Regions from separate parts of the Homo sapiens genome. Here region 1 is linked to region 2. Evidence: fine-mapped expression QTL. A gene starts in region 2. The other region holds a variant in brackets. All regions are shown on one strand. Distances are between the middles of the regions.

Region 1 (2,500 bases), 23 kb after region 2:
GGAGACCTCACTGCCATACACCATGCTGGCGTCCACAAAGGAGGTGAGCGCGTTGATCTGGTTGCGGACTCTGTTCTTGTTTTGGGGGCATGAGGGTGCCGAGCGGAAGAAAGGGATGCAGTCACGCTGGTTCTTGATGCGGGGGTCATTGGGTGGGATCTGAGATGGAAGAGGAGACAGTGACATGGGGCCCCCTCAATAGCAGACTCACTCCTCTCCGTCATCTTCCACCTCCTCAAAACCTTGCTTAAAACTCCCTTCCTCCAGGAAGCCCTCCTTGACTCACCCAGGCTCATGCTGCTCACCCCGTCAGTCTGAGTGTCCTTAACATTTTGTTTCATAGAGTCTCAAAAGGTTAGGAATGAATGAGGCTTTTGAAACAATCTCGATCCTCATTTTACAGCAAGGAAAACAGCCTCAGAGAGGGGAAGTGACAACCAGTTAGCAGGAAAGGTGGGATTAGAACTTAGTTCTCTTGACTCTTAGGCCTGAGCTTCTTTAATTCTGTTCAATTCGACAGACCTTTTCTAAGCCCCTTTCTTGCTTGCTGCTTTGGAGATTATGAAGGTTAAAAAAACACAGGAAAGGTTGCAGGAAGCTGGCAGTTCAGTGGAAAAAGACACACACACATAGAGTTAAGAAACTAAGTTGAAGTGGCATCTGCTGTGCTTGATAGAAAAGCCATATGTGGGCCAGGTGTGGTGGCTCACGCCTATAATCCTAGCACTTTGGGAGGCCGAGGCAGGTGGATTACATGAGGCCAGAAGTTTGAGATCAGCCTTGTCAACATGGTGAAACCCAATCTCTACTAAAAATACAAAAATTAGCCAGGCTTGTTGGCACATGCCTGTAATCCCAGCTACTCGGGAGGCTGAGGCATGAGAACTGCTTGAACCCAGGAGGCAGAGGTTGCAGTGAGCTGAGATTGCCCCTCTGTACTCCAGTCTGGACAACAGAGTGAGATTCTGTCTCAAAACAATAATAATAATAATAAAGAAGAAAGAAAGAAGGAAAGATAAAGAAAGAAAGGACGGAAGAAAGAAAAAGAAAGAAAAAGAAAGAAAGAAAGGAAGGAAGGAAATGAAGGAAGGAAGGGAAGGAAGGAAGGAAAGGAAAGAAAGAAGAAAGAAAGAAAGAGGAAGGAAGAAGGAAGGAAGGAGAGAGAGGAGAGGGGAGGGGAGGACATATGTTAAAAGTGTAATAGGAAGATCTGAGAAGGCTCCCCAGAGGAGGTGCCCCTAAGCCAGGGA[T/C]TGAGGAATAGATAAGGTTGCAACAGGGAGAGGCCATCCAGAGGCCCTCACATGTCATCCCTCATGAATGTGGCCCCACCTATTAAGGGTGACTGTGTGTGTACATGTGTGTGTGAGAGGGAGCGTGTGTGTGCACGTGTGTGTGTGTGAGAGAGTGTGTGTGTGCACGTGTGTCAACCCTATGTTCCTAGCAGAGACTCTGCTCCCTGGATTCTATCTTTCCTCCCCTAGTGCCCCACACTGTCCTTGGCTTCTAGCCTGAAGGTTAGGACCCTACTTACAGCCCAAGCCCAAGAAGCTGGCAAGAGCCGCAGGACCCTTGGACTACTCTGGGAAGGAGAGAAGGGCAAGAGCTAAGAGGCCCTTAGGTTGCCAAAAGCAGGGGCCCAGAGGCTTCCCCTGTTGGATTCAGACCCATGGGTCAAGGCATGTGTCAAGGGCTTCCCACTCCATGAAGCCTGACCTGAGCCTCCTGGCAGATTGCCCTACCCCCACCTCTCAAACACACACGGCGCGGGGTCTCTGCTCAGCTGTGTTTCTTGTGTCTCTGTCTCATACCCTAGCTCCACAGGCAGCTCCTTAAGGATGGTGCTCCAGTCTTCCAGATCCCCACCCCCAGCACCTTGCCTTTGGGGGAGGCCACACAAGGGCATGGGAGATTGGCTGAGGGTAGGTACCTTGATGGGAAAGCAGGGGGGCAGCTGGGCGCAGGTCCTCTCACAGTCAACGCCTGCAGTGAAGGCCACTCTGGCCGGGGACTCCGGGGAGAAGTCCAGGTCATGGTCAATGAACTGGCCCCACTGCATGAACATGAGGGCTCGGCCACGGTCGGAGGTCAGTCTCTCATTGGGGAAGCGCACAATCTGGTTGGAGACAGCCCGGACCTGGTGGGGAAATAACATCAGCACGGGACATGGGCTCCCTGACCCCACAAGGTATTAGAGCCAACCCAGGACTCAGGGAGCAGCAGCTCCCCTGCTGGAATTGACAGCCTCTCCTCTTCTGCCCTCCATGCCCCTTTTGTCCCTGGAGGCGTAGCCACCTCCTGCTCTCATTCCTAGAAGGATGGTTTCTGGCTGGGCTCCTGAGGATTCCGGTGGTAAAGAGAAGGAGAGGGGCTAGGTTGACTGGCTCAGACCTCACCAGCTCTCCCAGAGGGGAAGGGAGATCAAATAGATAGATCAATTTGTACACTGATAGCTAACCAGATGATAGCACGGATTCACAGGTGCATGGGCTGGTTGCCAGGT
Region 2 (3,016 bases):
GCGGGCGGATCACGAGGTCAGGAGATCGAGACCATCCCGGCTAAAACGGTGAAACCCCGTCTCTACTAAAAATACAAAAAATTAGCCGGGCGTAGTGGCGGGCGCCTGTAGTCCCGGCTACTTGGGAGGCTGAGGCAGGAGAATGGCGTGAACCCGGGAGGCGGAGCTTGCAGTGAGCCGAGATCCCGCCACTGCACTCCAGCCTGGGCGACAGAGCGAGACTCCGTCTCAAAAAAAAAAAAAAAAAAATTATTATTTCCCAGGTTGGAAATGTGTGCGTTTATGGAATAAATTGGTAGGTGAGAGGCTGTGAGGCAAACTGGAAGGTGGTTAGGCTTCAAAAGACAGAAGAACTTGGGCTAGAATCCCAGTACTTTTACCACTTGCAAGCTAGCAAGTCCTTTAAACCCTGGCCTTCACGAACTTCATTTTTAAAGTGAATAAAAGTACCTTTTTGAGAGGCTTCTACAAGGATTTGGGACAATGCAAACAAAAGTGCTCAAGCTGCACTAGATCCTAAATAAATGGTGCTATTTATGGTGAGTCGGTGTTACACAACTAGTGGCTATGGCACCCAGAGCTTCCAATGCCAAATCATCAAACTGGCATGAGATTCCCGAGTTCAGGGGACAATTGCTTACTTTGTTGGAGGAGGACTAGATGTGAACAAGGCTGATAAATGTTGACATTCCCAAAGTGCCGGGACGCCAGACGTGAGGTTACAGCATGTCCTTCCTTTGCTAGTACAACGAAGCATGACTTGTGAATGTCACTTTTTTGGCTTTTCAGGAAGCCAGTGCAGTAACAAAGTGGCTTAATGATCCAAAACTAACATACACAAGGTAAGAATCAGTTCAATAATAACATCGTTTCCTTCCTTACTGTTGACTTCCTTGTTTTTTCTTTCTTTGCTCAGTGAATATCAACACAAAGACTAATAAATCTTCTGACACTTTTTTTGTCTTCCAAGAATATATTTTCTTGTCTGGCTAAGGGCCATCACCTTCCCTGACTCCTTTGGGAATAATGGGTGCATTTCTTACAGTCACATCACCCGATTTTCAGGCCAAAGTTTTCACGCGTTGGGTGGAAGGCAGTGTGGCATGGTGGAAAAGGTAGAGGGCGAAGACTCAGGCCACCTGGTCCCCGTCATCATTTCTGCATCTATCTGTCTATATGAAGTGGGCTGATGGCTGTGCCAGTTTCCTCATTTGCACAGCGCACGAGGTCCCGCTTTCGGTGAGCTTTTATCGCATACATGGTAAGCGGTGATCGGTAGGACCCCGGAGCCCTCTTGGGCGTTCGGCTTGGGCTGCACTTGCACTGTGTGGCCAACTGCGACCGTGGCGCCGTGACGGGAACGGCGGGTTGCGCGCGCAGCACCTCCGTCGCCTCCCGATCCAGCGTCTCCGTTGCCAGGAAAACAGAGCGGCGCGCTTTCCGGCGCAGTCGCGGCGCGTCGCAGCTGTCATGGCGGAGACCGTCTGGAGCACTGACACCGGGGAGGCAGTGTATCGCTCCCGGGACCCCGTGCGCAACTTGCGCCTCCGGTAGTCGCACCGCCCCAGCCCCGAGGCCCCATGCTTTTGTGTCCTTAGATCATTCCAACCTGAGCTCGGTGTTCTGAGGTCCCCACTTTCTGCTTACAATCCCGACCACTTCTCCGGGCTCCCCACTTCTTTCACTATCCGTACCCCCATCCACTCACAGCCTCTAAGAACCCCTTACAGACCTACCCAAGTCCATTCACGTCTTTGTTGCTCCCAGTTTCTCAAAGCCCTGTGCCCCCAGTACACCCTCTCCCCTTCATTCTTCCCCATAGGACGGCGCACCCACCCACCTCCTCTCCGTTGTCTGCACCCAGCACACCTTGGCAACCCTACCTCCTCTGTTTTGTTTCCCCCATCCTTGCTTTGTGTTCATCTCCTGGTTGCGTGTCTGGTAACGAATATTTTGGGCTTTTCTTGACAGAGTCCACCTGCAAAGAATCACATCAAGCAACTTTCTTCATTATCAGCCTGCTGCCGAGCTCGGGAAGGACCTCATAGACTTGGCCACTTTTAGGCCTCAGCCAACTGCCAGTGGGTGTTACGGTGGTGATGTGCCATCTAATACTAATTATGATACTAATCAGAATTGTGGCCAAATGTAGTGAGATAACAAATACTATACTTCTGATATGTTATAGAGTTGCCCGGCAACCTACATTCTATTTGTGGCTTTTTTTTTTTTTTTTTTTTTTTTTTTTTTTTTGAGACGGAGTCTTGCTCTTTCCCCCAGGCTGAAGTGCAGTGTCGCTATCTCCGCTCACTGCAAGCTCCGCCTCCCGGGTTCACGCGATTCTCCTGCCTCAGCCTCCCGAGTAGCTGGGACTACAGGCGCCCGCCACCACGCCCGGCTAATTTTTTGTATTTTCAGTAGAGGCGGGGTTTCACCGTGTTAGCCAGGATTGTCTCGATCTCCTGACCTCGTGATCCGCCCGCCTTGGCCTCCCAAAGTGCTGGGATTACAGGCGTGAGCCACCGCGCCCGTCCTATTTGTGGCATTTTTAAAAGAGAAAACGTGCCCCAAACCCTAAATACACATATAAACACTTTTAAAAACAATTTTTAAACTGGAGACTGCTTGCAAAATCTGCATATGATGTGCATGTATAGATCAACTGTGTTCTTGTGGTTTTCCTTATCTGGGAAACCAAAAGAATGAGGAGGAGAGGACAGAGTGGTTGTTGTCAGGTCACTAGTCTGTTTGCTTTTATTGTTTCTCTTTCTGTTCAGAGCTGTTCCTGGGCAAGAGTGTGGGCTCACAGGTTGTGAAACGTGTCTCTGAAAAAGGCATACCCAAGAGTGTATTAGATTAGATTTGTTTTCTTTGTTTTTGTTTTCGTTTTGTTTTGAGACAGAATCTCATTCTTCTGCTCAGGCTGGAGTGCAGTGGTATGATCATAGCTCACTGTAAACCTTGGTCTCCCAGGCTCAAGCCATCCTCCTGCCTCAGCCTCCCAACTAGCTGGGAC

Which allele goes with the higher level. Alleles are on the strand shown, and positions count from the first base shown. SD is a standard deviation of normalised expression in the study named.
As copies of T replace C in region 1, the expression in breast of the gene that starts at base 1,446 in region 2 goes up (small effect, 0.13 SD a copy in GTEx).

Evidence for each region. PIP is the estimated chance that this variant, and not a neighbour inherited with it, causes the effect.
Region 1: its variant is fine-mapped to the expression of MKS1 in breast (GTEx, PIP 0.94).

The regions. Positions count from the first base shown.
Region 1 is chr17:58,194,598-58,197,097 of GRCh38, reverse strand. EPX (eosinophil peroxidase) reads right to left here. Exons shown (of 13, transcript NM_000502.6): 6 at 1,928-2,134; 7 at 1-159. Among named protein-coding and RNA genes, the nearest start is that of EPX, 3.1 kb to the right of the region's middle. The variant T/C (reference allele first, on the strand shown) is at 1,251.
Region 2 is chr17:58,217,685-58,220,700 of GRCh38, reverse strand. It overlaps MKS1 (MKS transition zone complex subunit 1), which reads left to right and starts at 1,446. Exons shown (of 18, transcript NM_017777.4): 1 at 1,446-1,550; 2 at 1,972-2,081. The coding sequence starts at 1,471. LOC105371841 (a long non-coding RNA gene) reads right to left here and starts at 1,387. Exons shown (of 2, transcript XR_934884.4): 1 at 642-1,387. RefSeq lists an enhancer at 1,339-1,618.